Regions from separate parts of the Homo sapiens genome. Here region 2 is linked to region 1. Evidence: fine-mapped expression QTL. Tissue or cell type: blood mononuclear cells. Region 1 holds a variant in brackets; the other region holds the start of a gene. All regions are shown on one strand. Distances are between the middles of the regions.

Region 1 (8,105 bases):
GAAACTGGACACTTTCATATCACAAACACAACATTTGATTTTGATCTTTGCTCGCTGGACAAAACCACAGTCCGTAAACTACAGAGTTACCTGGAAACATCTGGAACATCCTGAGGATATAACAACTGGATGCATCAAGAACTATTGTGTTTTTTTTTTTTGGTTTTTTTTTTTTTTGGTTGTGATTTTTTGTTCTTGTTGTTTATATGAAAACACTCAAAATGATGCAACCAAAAGGGAAAAAATAAAAATCAAACAACCTTCAGCTTTATTTTTCTTTAAAGCCAGTCATCATCTCTTGATAAAGGAGAGGTTAAAGCAAACCAGCCTCAGCGGACCACTCTTCTCTCCAAGGAAATCCCCGGGAAGAGTTAGCCTGGATAGCCTTGAAAACAAACAAATCAAACACAACACAAGAAAACTCAAAGAATGTGTATGGTATCATGTATCTCTCTGTGGTGGTTCATTCCACAGGACGAATGCATATTCAACACACTGCCTTATTACATAACTGATCTATTTATTATCGCATACAGATATTCTAAGTCGTTGAGGGAATGACACCATCAGACATTATAAGTACTTGGTCCCGTGGATGCTCTTTCAATGCAGCACCCTTGCCATCCCAAGCCCAGTGACCTTACTCGTATACCGTGCCACTTTCCACCAACTTTTTCCAAGTCCTTTAACTCGTTGCAGTCTGTATTTTCCACCTTTTGTTTTTCCAGTTCCAGGACACAGATTATCAACTGGGGGGACCAAATAGCCACCTTGATTTTCTTCTTTGTGGTCTTTTTCCTGAAAGTTGGGGCCCAGTCCTTGGCTGTATCCATGTAATGATCTTGGACCATGGTAGAAAATGCACCAAATAGGATCATATGAATTGCTGTCTAGCCTTAGTCAATAAACTTGTAGGACTTTTAAACAAAAGTGTACCTGTAAATGTCCTGAATCCAGCATTGTTGAGCTGTCATCAACATTCTTGTGTCTGTTTTACTGTTACAATATTAGGTGAATATGGAAGTAAAGGCATTCCACAGGATCATCATTTAAAAAAAAAGAATTCTGGTCCTGTTTTCTAAAAAAAAAAACTGTTGTAGAAATTCTTAATTTGGATCTATTTATTAGTCAGAGTTTCAGCTTTCTTCAGCTGCCAGTGTGTTACTCATCTTTATCCTAAAAATCTGGAATCAGAGATTTTTGTTTGTTCACATATGATTCTCTTAGACACTTTTATATTTGAAAAAATTAAAATCTTTCTTTGGGGAAAAATTCTTGGTTATTCTGCCATAACAGATTATGTATTAACTTGTAGATTCAGTGGTTCAATACCTGTTTAGTTGCTTGCTAATATTTCCAGAAGGATTTCTTGTATTGGTGAAAGACGGTTGGGGATGGGGGGATTTTTTTGTTCTTGTTGTACCCTTGTTTTGAAACTAGAAATCTGTCCTGTGGCATGCAAAAGAAAGCAAATTATTTTTAAAAGAAAAAAACCAAAGTACTTTTGGTGTCATTATTCCATCTTCTCCATAAGTGGAGAAATGAAAAGTAAGAACAGCTCATCTTCAAAGTTTTTACTAGAAATTCAGCCGAAAAGAAGAGAAATGAAGAAATACTTCTGGATCCAAAGGTTCGTCACTGGATCAGCCTTAAGAAAGTCTCTATGTGTGCTAATAGACCAGTATCTCCCTTGTTTGTTCCCATGCCAGATGCTGTCTTTTCATACAGAGATTAACTAGTGTCTGTACAGAAAATGGTCTTTCCAGACCCATTCTTTTGGGCAGTTATATAAATGCAGATTGATAATGGAGTTATTTCTGCATTTTAAAAAGGGGATTTTTTACACTGTTTCTTTCTATCCAAAGAAACTATTTTTCCTTTAAAAAATTATAATACAGCCATGCTCCTTGTAAATTATTTCTCTGAAGCGTCCTCCCAGAGGACAAGTGTACTTTCTCAATAATGTTATGATTCTTAATGACGATTGGCATGAACCGTACTTGAAGCATTTGTTGTATTGTCCACTTCTTGATGTGCAGAGAAACTTTGAGTCATTTTGGACATTAGGTGATTGATGAATTGTGTGGTTTCAGTTGCGTTTTGTTTTTAACTTTATAGCTGGAAGGGGAGGGTAATGTTTATATGGAAATGTTGCAAATTTTTAAAATATTTTAAAATTTCTAACTGCTAACACATATTCTGATCAAGCCAGAAGTTTATGTGATTTAATATATCTGTGTAGTTTAACTAGAAACGTATATATGTAGTTTGGGCCATTTTTATTTCTGTAACTAAATTGTGGGGCAAAAAATATGATTTGCCAATGTAAAAATTTTTTCCTTTAAGTTACTAACCAAGAAGCTAGGTAAGATAAGAAATGACCAAACAAAAATAATGATAAGAAGGACAGCTATTATATGATAAACTTTAGACTTGAAAATTAGGTAATAAAGTTAATTTCTTCAGAATATCCTAAAATGTAAGTTTGTAAATTGATAAAGTTCAGAAAAACTTATCCATCTTCTACTCATCAAGATAGCAAAGTAAGTTTTTCACAAAATTAAGACTGAGAGTTACGTTATTTTTTTTGAAGTGGTAATCTTGCTCTCATCTAATTTTTAAATACAGAAATAAAAAGATCCCTTTGAATTAATTTCAAGTAGTTTTAATACCTCTCTTAAAGTAACCCCTTCAGTTCTGTCACATTTATATACACCCAACTTTGAAGCCTATTAAGAATATCTTTGACATGTGAGTACCCTAACAGTGGCTCTGGTTTCTTAAGCACAAAGGGAAAATGGCAGGGTTTAATTTCTTTGGTGTACATATATAAATAGATGTTTCAAATAAAATTAATTGGGTAAATGTGAATATGGTTTGAACCAGCCAGAGTATGATAAACTTTTAAAAAATTTTTCCTCAGTGATCAGCCAGGGGAAAAAATATATGTACAGAGCTCCTGCCCCTCTGCCCCCTTATAACTTAGCTTTTGCCTCTGGTTTTGCAGCAGGATGTGTGTTGGTGGGTTTGGGGTTCCTTCTGTCTTCGGATGTAACAGTCATGTTAGCAACAATATTTTGCAGTTACTTCACCATCCTCAGCATAATCTGCCTCTCTCTCAATCTTAATACAGACAAATAGGTATGTCTATAAATGCGTTCATATAGTGTCAAGGTAGGGAAGACTATAAAAACTTCAGATCAGGAAAAAAATATCTCTTAAGAGAGTGTCTTAAACATTTTAAATTGCTAGGCAATTTAAATCTCTCTAATCTGAATATTCACCTTTTGGTGGAAAGAGCCAGTAATATTGGTTTTCTTCCACTAAAAAGTTTCTTCAAAATTTTTTTTTTTTTTTTTTTTTTTTTTTTTTTGCCGATATCTTTTACAGGCCCACCTAATCTTTAAAAAAAAGAGAAGAAACAATTTTAGGCCTGTATAACATCCTATTTACTACTTCAAGCTCCACAAATGTAGTTAATATATTTGTTTAAGAGAGACTTTACTCTTAAATGTTTTAACTTTGCCTACTTAATGGAGTTGGATGTCCAGTGTTGGAAACAGTCAGTGTCTGTTTGGTGGCTCGTGTTTATTTTTGTCACTGTAGAAGTGATCTGCTCTGGAGTAATTTGCTGTATGCTTATTACTTTCCACCTTTAGCGTTTTGTGTACTAATGCTATGTACTGCTCCTATATTTATATATACATATATATATATATATACACATATATATTATCAGAGTAATCTTGCTTTGGACTGTTGCTCTAAAACTATGAATATGATGTAGAGACTACTACAGCTGCAGTGAATGTTAAGGAGTCAATTCCCATGGTTTAGTTTAGTCTCGGGCTGGAAGTCTACATCTTTTGACCTCTTTTGTTTTATATGATGCTTTTTATTATGTAGGCACTGCCATCCCTGAATATTCCTTGTAAAGATGCAGTGAAGAAGTCAATTTAAAAGGAAGACAAAGCCACCGCTGTCTGTAAACTGTAAAT[G/A]TGTATTTTGGCACTTGTACTCCAGTATTCTGAAAATAGAGTTATGATGGAAATGCTGACAGATCCTTAATGGTGGCCAGAGCTACCATGCAGTGCAAAAATAAATTAAGTGAAAATGTATTATTGAGATTAACAGTGCAAGGCCAATACATTTTATAAATCTGTCAGTATCTTTTTAATGGACTGTGTATGTGTAGTTATGTTGAAAGATACATTGTGTATGTGTACATGCTTTTGTGTGAATTCAAGGCACACTGTAAGATGTATTTCCCTTCTCTAAAATCCATGTTGAAATGTAAGTACAGATTGATAGAAATAGGTGTTTTACTTAAACTCATATAATCTGTTTCAGCACCTTTTTTAAAATGTATAATTGTACTGATTTGCTGAGAGTCATTTGACCAAAGTTTGGCTTTATTTTGCATACAGGAAAAATTAGCCCCTAGCCTTTTCTCAAGAAGTGATGCTGTTTCTAAAGAAGAATAGATGGGGAGATCTGAGACATCCAGAGAGAGGACAATGTGTCCAAAACCAGCTGAAGGCAGAGAGTCCATGCCTCATTCATTTTAGGAGTCCCTCATGTCTAACACCATCTTCTGTGTCCTAAAGCCAGTATATATATAATATTTTTAAAACTCTGCAAAGATTGGAACAAGAAGTGGTGGGATACATTTTTTGGCATAAACTGGGCTATGTGTGCCCGGTATTTTTTCTTTCCCCCCTATTTCTTTGGAGGGTTTTGTTCAGAAACAATGTGCTATAGCCAGAGAGAGTCGATCTTACAAAGTCCCTGCATTTACTTTCACAGCAAGAACTGCTACCTTGATTAGACAGGAAGGAGAACAACTACTACAACAAAGAGAATAAAATACATTCAGTTTGGTAAATAACCAAGGAATTGGATGTGATGCTCTTACTTAATAGTAAGGAGATTTACATCAAATTTGAGAAACTGACTTTATCTTCATTCAGGCTGACAAGCCATTTAGGGGATTAGAGGGGACTGCTTTGTCTCTTATCAACCCGAAACTGAGTTTAGGTGTGGAAGCATCAGTCCCAGATGGGTTGGGGTGGCAGTAGAACTTTCTAATGACCATACTTGGATTGGACTAATCTGTTCCCTTGTTGTGGCATAGATACTCAATTTTATTTAAAATAATGGCCTTACACCTTCTCCACTGTATAGAAAGGGTCAAGATCAGCCCCAGGCCCTGCTGAAGCACACTCACCCAGGGGTGCACTGCACCACATGGTTTTCCCCAATAATTTGTTTCCTGTCTCTCCAATTTATGGCCCCATTTCGATATGCAAGGAAACCTGGAGAGAGATGACAGATAACCAAGCCTGACCCCCAGACCTCTCTGGTTGCTAATTCAGGGAAATAAGTCTCCAAAACTAGTGGTCTTGTTTTATTCTGATTAGTAGAACAACTAAGGGTATTTTATTGGTTTCCTTGCCAGGGATACCACCCAAATAGAAAACACGGAGCACATTTCAAAGCTTCTGCTTTCTCTGCCAGGTAATAGTATCCATACCTTCCTGTTTATGCGGTCCCCTTCTGTAGAGGCGTTTCCAATTTTTTCCAGAGGTTGTTAAATTGCCTTTGGCTCTCAGCTTAGCCTCTTGGTCTTAATTTCCCCTTAATTAAAGAAGGGTAACCAATGTGGTCCCTAGGAGCTAGTGAGAGAAATATACGGCACAAACCAGAAAACACTCTGATAATGATAACTGGGCCCTATGGCTCTTAAATAACAGCACAAATAGTCTTCGACCTGAATGAGAAGGCTCCTTGAGTCCACTTTTATAACAATTCAGGGTGACTACTAGGGCACTCGGCAGTCCGCATGGAATGGGAGGTGCCCACAAGGAGTGGGAGATAGATGGTGAGTAAAGACAACGTTATTTGCTCATTTTCCCCTTAATCATGTAGTCATGTCTCCCACCCCATGCAGTCCCCACCACAGAGTTCTGAGGCTTCAAAAGGGTAGAAAAGGATAAATCCAGGCCATTAAAAGAAAATAATCAAAGCTATTGAAAAGATAAAACAAATGAGTCGCACTAAAAGGGCCGTCTGTGCAAGTAACAAGGTTGAAATACTGATACTGATTTCCTAGCCGAACAGCATTCCTCACACATGTGGTTTGTGTATCCGTGTCTGGGTGGGTGGTCTGGTGAGAAGTGCTAAACGCAGCAAGATGGCTTAGTTTTTGAGCAGTGGAGGGAAGCTTTGGGACAGGCTCAGCCCGTGGCATCTATAGTCCCTGCAACATAAAGAGGCTTTCCTTTTGCTTTGTTCCAGGATGGAAAGTTTTAACTTGGCTTATTCATTTAAATGTGAGTCTCTATTCTGCACAGAACCAATCAGAGGGTAGGAGTGTGTGTGTGTGTGTGTGTGTGTGTGTGTGTGTGTGTGTGTGTGTGTCTGTGTGTGTGTATGAACCTTCTTGTCTCTCGCCACCCCAGCCCTAGGGGATGGGATGTGTGGCATAGAATGTATAACTCTTCATTTGTTGGAATGTATTCCCTGGGTGCTAAGCACCTATTAACATCTCTTTTGAAAGGGACGCTGTTTTAAATAACACCTCGGTCTAGCTAGGACAGGAAATAGCATTAAATTAAAGGTACACACGAATACGGTCCACAAGCAATCTAAATAAAGGTGGACTCCCCCAAAAGCACATCTATACTAATGAGAATGCCAAATGAAGCGCGCTTAGTTCAAAGGCGGAGACTTCTTAAGGGAAGCTTCTTTTATTCAGGAAACACGATGCCCGACGATGGCTTTTGAGAGACACAAATCATTGCCAACTCACATCTGAAGACAGGCTGCTTCATGAATATCCCTCAGAATTGTTAGATGTCGGGAGTTTTGACTTTGAATCAGTTGGGGGATAAATCATTGTTTTCCAAATTACAATACTTATTTGTTTCCATGTTTATTATCTGTCTCCCCCACTAGAACAGAAGCACCTGAGGGCAAGAAGTTTGGTTTGTTCACTGCTGATTCCAGGACCTAGAACAAGTCCAAGACATACGAGACACCTCTATTTATCAAATGAAAATGTGGGAGCATTTTGTGGAACATGAACCTCTTTTGACATTTCATGAGAAATGGTTTTGCGTTTAAGTTTGGAAAAATTGCCCAGTATATGACCCTCTTGGCAATTCATGACGTACTAAAATATTAAATCTTGGAAAGCCACATGTTCCACCAATAGTCAAACTTGTTTAACTTTATTTAATGCAATATTTCCCAAACAGTATGTAACACAATAGTAGTTATGCAAGATAATAATAGCTGTTTGGCATTTAAAATAATGTTTCTTTATCAAAATAGTTTTTATTTTATTTTATTGTTTTTTTATGAGACGGAGTCTGGCTCAGTCACCCAGGCTGGAGTGCAGTGGCGCGATCTCGGCTCACTGCAAGTACCACCTGCCGTGTTCACGCCATTCTCCTGCCTCAGCCTCCCAAGTAGCTGGGACTACAGGTGCCCGCCACCACGCCTGGCTAATTTTTTGTTGTATTTTTAGTACAGACGGGGTTTCACCGTGTTAGCCAGGATGGTCTTGATCTCCTGACCTTGTGATCCGCCTGCCTCTGCCTCCCAAAGTGCTGAAATTACAGGCCTGAGCCACCGCGCCCAGCCTCAAAATCGTTTTTAAACTGTATTTCATTCTTCAAGGTTTATAACATAGTTTGGGTAGCACAGTTTCAGAGAAGGACAACACGGCTATTACTATCTCTAGAAGTGGTTTTCTGGATTAGCTAACCATGTAACTTTTTGGCCAAACTGGAATTTTTTTTTTTTTTTTTTTTTTTTTTTTACATACAGGATTTCTCTACGTTGCCAGGGCTGTAGTGCAGTAGCTATTCACAGGCACATAATAACATGCTATGGTCTTGAACTCCTAGGCTTAAGTGAACCTCCCGCTTTGGTCTCAGAAGTAGTTGGGACTACAGGTCCATACCACTAGATCTGGCAAACTGGAACATTTTTGAGAAGGAAATGGGACACTATTAATAATCATCCCAGGACAACATGAATAAATCAAAGCTGTCTTTGGCAAATCAGGGCATGTGGTCACTGTAGTTTCGAGGAAAACA
Region 2 (8,105 bases), 280 kb before region 1:
TTTGCAAAATGTCTATTTAGAGTCTGGCACATTTTCTAGTTTTTTCCATGCTTCTTCTTCCTCTTTTCTCCCCAAGTCTATACAGCAATGACGGGAAATAAATGGTAAATTTTTATTGATTTGAATTTGTGCATCAATTATCTATCACAACAAATAGATAAGTTTATTTTAGGATGCTCCTTAACACTCTAATTACACGTTAAAGGCCCTCTCTTTGTTCTGCCAGAAACATGGAAACTGGCTTTAGCTTCCAGACTAAAGAAAACAATTGCAAATAAAAAGGCTGGAGCCAAAATGATGGTGGTAGGGCAATGGTGATGGTAGTGGTGGTAGTGATCTGTCACAGACACTGTTCTCTTTTATTCTTCATCACGATTTTTATTTGATATGTTAATTACTTTTCTGATCTTCAAACTAACCCCATGGTGCTTCATACTGTGCTATATACAACAGTATGAATTTTGGTAAGATAATTATTCTTTGGATAAGTAGATGATTTTATCCCTCACCACTTCCATTTTAGTTATTATATTACTATTTCTGTATTTAGCACTGAAGTTTGTCTTAAAATTTCTTTACAGTACATTTTCTATAACCACATTGTCAAGTACACAAAAGGTTATTTTCCACATTTTTACCTCACGTTAAAGTGTGAAGATCTGCACAGGAAATTAATCGATTTTAATTGTTTTTAATGGCAAGCTTATTAAAATAGGTTGTAATTAATAAATTGACAGACTTGCATAAATTTCTTTGTCCAAAGTTGAAGGGAGAGTATTCAGTCTTGTGTTTTCTTTTCTTTCTTTTCTCCCCCTTCCTGATCTTTTTGTTGTGAAGGGGTCACGTAAGGACGTCCGTGGAAGAGCTCCGTGCGCCATCTACTGACGGAATCTAAATGTCCAGTATTTGGAGATTGGGAGTAACTACGTTGGGTTGTTAGAGCATTCTTTGAGGAAGGAGGGGTACTGGGAAAATACCCTTTCAGACTCTATGGCTTATTAGTGATTGCTGGAATAAATCTGAATTCAGCAAACACATAATTCAAAAAAGAGACCTCTATCTGTTGTGCGGGTACAAGTTTTGGAGACAATCTCAAGAGAGTCCGGTGGCTGGCGCCGGAAGAAGTTAAACCCTGAAATGAACTCAAACGGGGAATGGGATTGTTGTTTTTTGCCTGTGTCCTGAGCTACACTCGCTGTTAATGGTTACTTCTTAATAAGAAATGGCTTTACTAATGGCACGTCCAGATAACCTTTAGTTTCCAATACTATTATTACAAAGGACTGCTCTCAAATTTGATTATTTTATGAAAAGTTTAATAATGCACAATAAATAGGTCCCCCCTTCACGTAGATACTACCCACACAGCTTGTCTCTGCGAATATAAACGTAGTCCTTGTACATACATACAGACACAGCGACGCATATACCTACAGGATGATATGCAGTTATGTATATGTGTGTCAGTTGACAAATCTAAGCCCTTGGATTTAGATTAAAATGTTTCTACCTTCAGTCGTTTGCTCCATTCTATGCTAAATCCTGTAGAAGGCTGGGAAGAACTGGGGACCTCAAGCCAAAGAAGTTTCTTGATTATAACTGACAGGCAGCGGAATATCAGTTTTAGGGAATCAAAAGTTGAGTTGGAAGGCTGCTGGTTTGGAAACTAAGGTTGGTTCCAAGTGGTCCGACCTGATTCCCAGGATCTTTGTGAGAGCTGCTGGGAGAACTGAAAATTAACAGCGAGGACACAGGACGCCCTAGGTAACGTCCTCCCCGCTATTCTGCTCTTCTCAATTCAAGGGCCGAGACAACTTGCTTTTGTGGAAAAGGGAAGTAAAGGGAAAAGAGGAAAGCAAGGAAGTTCAGTCAGAAAGAGGAAGAGGGACAAAGAGGAAAGAAAGGGACAAAGAGGAAAGAAAGGGACAAAGAGGAAAGAAAGAGGGACAAAGAGGAAAGGCAAGGAGAAGAGAAGGAAAAATCAAGGTTCAGCAAGAAGTTGGAAGGCGAGGGAAAAAGGGGAGTAAAGAGAAGGCAAAAGAGGTCTAAGGGCTAGGAAGATGCAAGGATCTTTTTTTAACGAACCAAAGTCACATCCATCTTTCACTTTCAAATCAATCGTCTAGATCTTATCCGTTTCCTTTTTAAAGGTTATCTGCGTCTGTAAAGGAAGCCAGTAGTTGATACTCCTCTCCGCGCCCCACGCGTGGCCGCGCTGTTCTATCTCCGGCCACTGAGATCAAATACAACGCGAGTGAGAACATTTGCAGAGGCGCGACTCTGGGAACACTCCTGCGACTGGCTGTCACCCGGGAGTCTAACCGGATTAATACTCAGAGATGGATTACGCTGGTTGTCACCAATACGCCTAAAGATTATAATCCAATTTACGCACATTACAGTCAGTATTAACTTTATCTGCTATTTTAAGACTCCCGGTTGCCCCGCGCGTCCTCAGAGGACAATCCTCCACGTTCTGATGCAACTCAGTAGGCTGTCAGGAGGGGAAGCCCCCCGAAGAAAACAACTCCAAGCCTGGTCCCCGAGGGTCTGTACCCGGCACTCCCAGGTGTCTTGCTTTCACCTGGGCACCGCTTTATGAAGCTTCCCAGCCGGGGATTACCAAAGCGGAAGGCGTTCCCTTGCAAGGAAATAGCATCCTTGTTTCTCCCTTGTTCATTTCATTTTCAAATTTTCGGTGGCGGTGGCAGAAGGGCGGGGAGTGAGGGTGGCGGGCGGGTGCCTGTGAGTGGATGGGGCAGGGGGCCAGGGGATCGTTGCGGGTTAGAACAGCCTCAGTCATTGCTATTTTCATGCTCGTTTTTTGCAGGATGGCATTTCTCTCGCTCTCTTTAAGTAAGTTTGTTTGGGTGTGAGTTCTTGTCTTTTCAGCACAAAACCACAGAAATACGTGGTGGAAAGTAAAAGAAAGCCCACTCCCTCCTCCCCGTGCGTACTAGCTAAGGACTTGATTTAACACCCCCTCTCCGGCTGCTGAGGGCTCTAAGCAGTGGCTACATTCCAGCAGTTTTAATCCGTTTTTTATTGTAGGGCGAGCAGAGTTTACACAGGGGCTGGGATGGCTCCCCAGCTGGCCGCTCTCCCCACTCCTGCGTCCCCTCCCTGCCACCCCCCCAGCAGGAACCTGTTACTTTAAGCGAGGCTTTCCAGTGTGGCGCTGCGGGCCGCCGGGGTTTCGGGAGGTGGCAGGTGATTGGCTCTTTCGAGCTCCCCCTGGCTCGCTCGCTCTGCCTCCCCGCGCGCTCCGCCCCGCCCGCAAGCCCTCCCTCCGCCCTGTGAGGCTCGGAGCCCGGGTGTCAGGCGCCACGGCGCATGCTCCGCAATCATCTTCTTTACCCTGGAGCTGCTGCTGCTGCTGCTGCTTTTGCTTTTGGGGCTGAGTTTAATAAGCGAGCGAGCGAGCAAGCGAGCGCGGGGGGAAAAAGGCAGAGAATGTCCGCCATCTACCCTCCGCTCCTGGGCGCGCTCTCATTCATAGCAGCCTCTTCATGAATTACAGCTGAGGGGGGGCGGAGGAGGGGGGGGTACCACACAACACCCCAGCAAACCTCCGGGCCCCCAGGCATGGCTAGCTCGGTAAGTACGCGCAAAAATAATAATAAAAGCCCTCCCCCACTTTCCTTCCTCGCCCTGCGCCGCCGCAGCCCAGACAGCGCCAGCGCTCCGCGGTTCCAATTAGAGAAAGGTTGGTACGGCTTGCAGGGAGCTGCCGCCTCTCCCTCAGCCTCCGCTCCCCTCCTCCCCCACCCCCCCCCGGCGCGCACACAGACACACAGACACACACACACTCACACACGCTCACACTCGCCCCTCCACCCCCCGCGCCTCCCTCCCTCCTCGCCTCTTTGCAGTCACAAGAAGCGCACTCACACACTCCCTCTCGCTCACACGCGCGCACTCACACACACACACACACACGGTGGAAGGAGGCGAATAATAACTCAGCCATATTTCAGCCGCCGCCGCCGGGAGCTGCGGGCACAGTCCGGGGACGCGGCGAGCAGCCTCGGCGGCCGCACCTCCGCAAAGCGCCGCGGCCGCTACGATGGTGCGTTCTCCGCGGCGCGCGTGTGTGAGCCGAAGTGTGCGGGGCTGACAGCGGCGGGGCCGCACGCAACTTTGCCCCAGCGCCGGGAGGTGCTGAGCGCGAGCCGAGGCTCGGCGGCTGTCCGCCCGCCGCCCTGCCTTTCTGAATTTCATTTTTTGGGGGGAGGTGGGAGATACTTTGGAGCCACTTGGGCTCTTGAAAGTGTGTTGCGGGGGCTCGGTTCGACTGGCCTCGCCGATCGCGTGGGGCTTTTCGCTGGGGGGTGCGGGGTGCTCTAAGTTATGGATGCCTCGGCGTGTTTTCCTGCGGGCGTGTGTGTGTGTTTCAGTGTGTATGACGACGTCTCATTTTTGTTGTGCACGAACCCCGTGGCAAGAGCACGGGAGTTTGTGCCCATCAGCAGAGGCTGCCTGTAGTTTCCATTTCGCCTGGCACAGCGCTCCACACGCACGCACACACACGTACACAAAGACTTCCTCGGCGTGTGCCTGTCGCCGCGGTACTTTCGGGGAGGGGGCTCGCCAGGAGCCCTTCGGTCCCCCTGGGTCCCAGCCACCTCCCCTCCCACGCCGGGAAACCGCCCCGGCATCGCCTTCTGATTTGTTTCCGATGCATTTGTTGTCGTGCTTGTCGTGGCTGAGTGTGTTCTCCCTCTTTTCCCCGACCCCCTTCCCGACTGGGGATAACATTCCGTTACAATCCTGTCCGATGTAGATGCGGGGCCCGGGGCGCCTGGGGCCAAGCCGGGCCGGGCGGGCGGGTATATTTGGGGGTGTGGAGTGTGCGCGCCCACGCGCGTGAAACGTGGATGCAGAGGGCACCGCCGTTTCCTTTTATGTGCGTTTCAAGAAGGAGGAAAAAAATGTCAGGCGCAACGTTCACTGCCGAAACCTCGCCTTCCTGTTATTCACGGCTGTCTCTCCTCCCCCTGCCCGCAGTGTGCCGTGCAGGTGAAGCTGGAGCTGGGGCACCGCGCCCAGGTGAGGAAAAAACCCACCGTGGAGGGCTTCACCCACGACTGGATGGTGTTCGTACGCGGTCCGGAGCACAGTAACATACAGCACTTTGTGGAGAAAGTCGTCTTCCACTTGCACGAAAGCTTTCCTAGGCCAAAAAGAGGTAGGGCTCGAATACAAAAGGGTCTTGATAAAAAATGTCTTTGAAACAATCGCTTGGCCCGGGCGGTCCCGCTGTCCCGCTCCCCGCCCCCCGCGCCGCGCTCGCCGGCGTAGCCTCGGGATCCGGGTGCGCGGCGCCGCGCGGGCCAGGTCCCGGCTCCCGCCTGCCCGCGCGCGCGCCACTTCGGCTTGGTGAAAGTCACCGCAGAGAAAGGACCGTCAGGTGTCGAGTGTTTATTCATCCCAAGCCAGCCCTCACCAGTCCTCTGGGGTTAGCCGCGGGTTCTGTGGGGAAGGTGCAATTAGTTGTTGAGTTTGGAGATGTGGGGAATCGGGCTGGAGGGAATAAACACTTTGCGCGTGTGTGTGTGTGTGTGTGTGTGTGTGTGTGTGTGTGTGTGTTTTCCTAGAGAAATTAAGATTTACCTGTGTTATTAGCAAAGAATGTATTGGATGTAGTTATTGTTCGGTCTTGGCAAGTCGGTTCTCTTTAGGGTCTTCTGTGCTTTCCTGTCTGTGTATGAGGCACCAGGTGCCAGTTGCCATAGACTTTTCTTTTTGTGGCTTAGCCACCGCCACACCCACTCCAGTCTGGATTTTATGTTTACTTGGGGGGCTTACTCGTTCCTCCCTCCCACCCCCGCGTGCCACTTGACTGCTCCTTTGATTCTGAGCAACGTTCCAAAGTGTCTGCCGGATGTGATCTGCAGGGAGACTGTTCTTGCAAAGGTCGAAGCTAAGTTGAAGAGGAACGATGTGGAGGAAGCCTTTTGCTTTAGTCCCTCCCCACCTTGGTTCTTAGCCTTGGAGTCTAGTTTGCATAATCCTACTGGGCCTCTGTGGTCCCAAACATTTTCCATAATGGGCAGGACAGTTTTGGAAAAAAGAAACGGAGTGTCATTTTGAAAGAAATTTAAAGAGGGTTTGAGAAATACCGATTTCTTTTCCCTTCAACCTCTGGAAAACTAATGTCTGGTTGTTTTAGTTGGATTAGTGAAGGTAACAGTACAAATACAATAAGGTGCTTTGTTTGTGAGCAGGTTTATTTATCTAAGTCGACACAATGGTTAGTAGTTATCTTCCATTTGATCCGTAATCTTTATTGGCATCTAGAACTCCTGTCGTTTCTTAGAGTAATATCATAATAAATCCATTCTGCTTAGAGCTGTGTGGAAATTATTGAACATTCAGGGGGCTGAATAAAGAAAGGAGAAGCGTCGTGTGCCTTAGAGGTGGCAGAGGTTTGTATTGGTGCTTAGTTTTGTTTCCAGAGCTCATGTAATGGGAAGTAGGATTGTATTTTTTGCCTTTAGTGGTTTGGTTTATAACTCCTCCTGAAAACTTGAACGGTTGAATTTGATGGTCTTTGTTGGATGGTTAATAAATAAATCCAGTTTCTTATAGAGGGCTAGAAATATGCATGGCCTATAGGAAATAACATTTGAAATTTGTTAGCATTTTATGTTAAAATATAGTCAGAGATTATTATATTTCATATTTCCTCCAAACTGTGGTAAGGATGAGCGATGTCAAATTTCTATCGCTGATGAGGTTGATATGCTGCTTCTCGGATTCTCTCTCTCCCTTTCCATGTGTCTGTAGAGCAGAGGAGTTTAAACAAAAGAAACCACTTTCTAAGATCCTTGGTACACATTATTACTACTACTTGGCTGCAGTTCACTTCAAGGTGAAATAAGCTTTTAAAAAGCAACATTTATTAGGAAAATTAACTCAGTTGGCAGAAGATGTAGCTCTTAAGGTAACTTTGTTTAGGCACCTTGACAATCAACAAATTGGCATTATGAAATTAAAGATGATCAACCTCTATTTTACCATTGTTTTTCTGCTTCAGTGGATGTGTGCATTGATGTTATTTTTATTTCCTATACTTAATGATTTTCTGTCTGCCCTGAGGGAACATGAGGGTGCTGCTCACATAGGCCACACCTGGGAGTTGTTGCTAGGCGTGGTAAGCTGCTTGATAGCAGTGATGACTTCTCAGAGGTCTCTGGTGAGAGATGTCTGCTTGTTGGTTGGATTCCTCAATTTTTATACTCAACTGTGGAGGTTCTCTATGCAGTCTATAAGCCATTGTTTTAAAATGTTTATTTTTGGATTTTTATTTGTATGCGTGCTTCCCATGATGTGACAAGTCCTGGGAAAAGTGCCAGCTTACATCACCCAGGAGAGACCTTGTCATACTGTAATTACACATGATTCAGATTGCAAGAGAAGGTTTCTCTGTTCATTGGGAATAGTTGTAAGTTCAAGCAACACCAAACATGCCACTTAATCCTGGGACTTATTTTTTGGCTTATAAAGTCTTTCAAAATGATAAGAATAAATATAGAATAAGAATGCCAAGAATTTGTATGTCTACTTCCAGTACCTTTTAAAGTGTTATGTTAGCTATATTGTAGATCTATAAGTGATAGAGTAAAATTCTACCAATTGGAAATTGGAGAAACTGAAAATATGAATTTGTGAGAAATCTGAGTTATAAGATCTTTAAAAGAAATGCTCATATTCTATAATAAATAAGCTGTGTTGGCTATAGTGACAATCTAAATCACTTTCACTGTATACAGTAGCTGCTAAACAGAGATGAGCCTTAGGACTGAGGATGAACTGCTCAGCCACAAAGATGAAAGAGTCCTTAGTTTTGTAAATCTTTGGTTTGGAAAAGTGAATTGATTTTCAGGTTGATTTCCTTTACTTCACAGTAATATTAGAATTTGTAGGAGAAAAAATTATAGTATTTTTAACTTGTTGCTTAATGAGAATTATGTATACCATTTCAGAATTGAGCTAATTGGATTTGAATTAATGAGGTTTTACTCTGTCACAAAGATGGGTGGGAGACCTTCAATTTAAAACTAATGGCACAAAATCTTAGAAAAGAGATTTTGATGAAATGG

Evidence for each region. PIP is the estimated chance that this variant, and not a neighbour inherited with it, causes the effect.
Region 2: it holds the start of MLLT3, and the variant in region 1 is fine-mapped to the expression of MLLT3 in blood mononuclear cells (TOPMed, PIP above 0.99). The same link has a PIP of 0.9 or more in T cells.

Annotation. Positions count from the first base shown.
Region 1 is chr9:20,338,452-20,346,556 of GRCh38, reverse strand. MLLT3 (MLLT3 super elongation complex subunit) reads left to right here. Exons shown (of 11, transcript NM_004529.4): 11 at 1-4,888. The coding sequence ends at 114. Among named protein-coding and RNA genes, the nearest start is that of MIR4473, 69 kb to the left of the region's middle. The variant G/A (reference allele first, on the strand shown) is at 3,999.
Region 2 is chr9:20,617,737-20,625,841 of GRCh38, reverse strand. MLLT3 (MLLT3 super elongation complex subunit) reads left to right here and starts at 3,343. Exons shown (of 11, transcript NM_004529.4): 1 at 3,343-3,597; 2 at 5,008-5,188. The coding sequence starts at 3,586. RefSeq lists silencers at 2,745-2,884, 2,905-3,364, 3,785-3,934, 4,005-4,054, 5,275-5,394 and an enhancer at 4,985-5,114.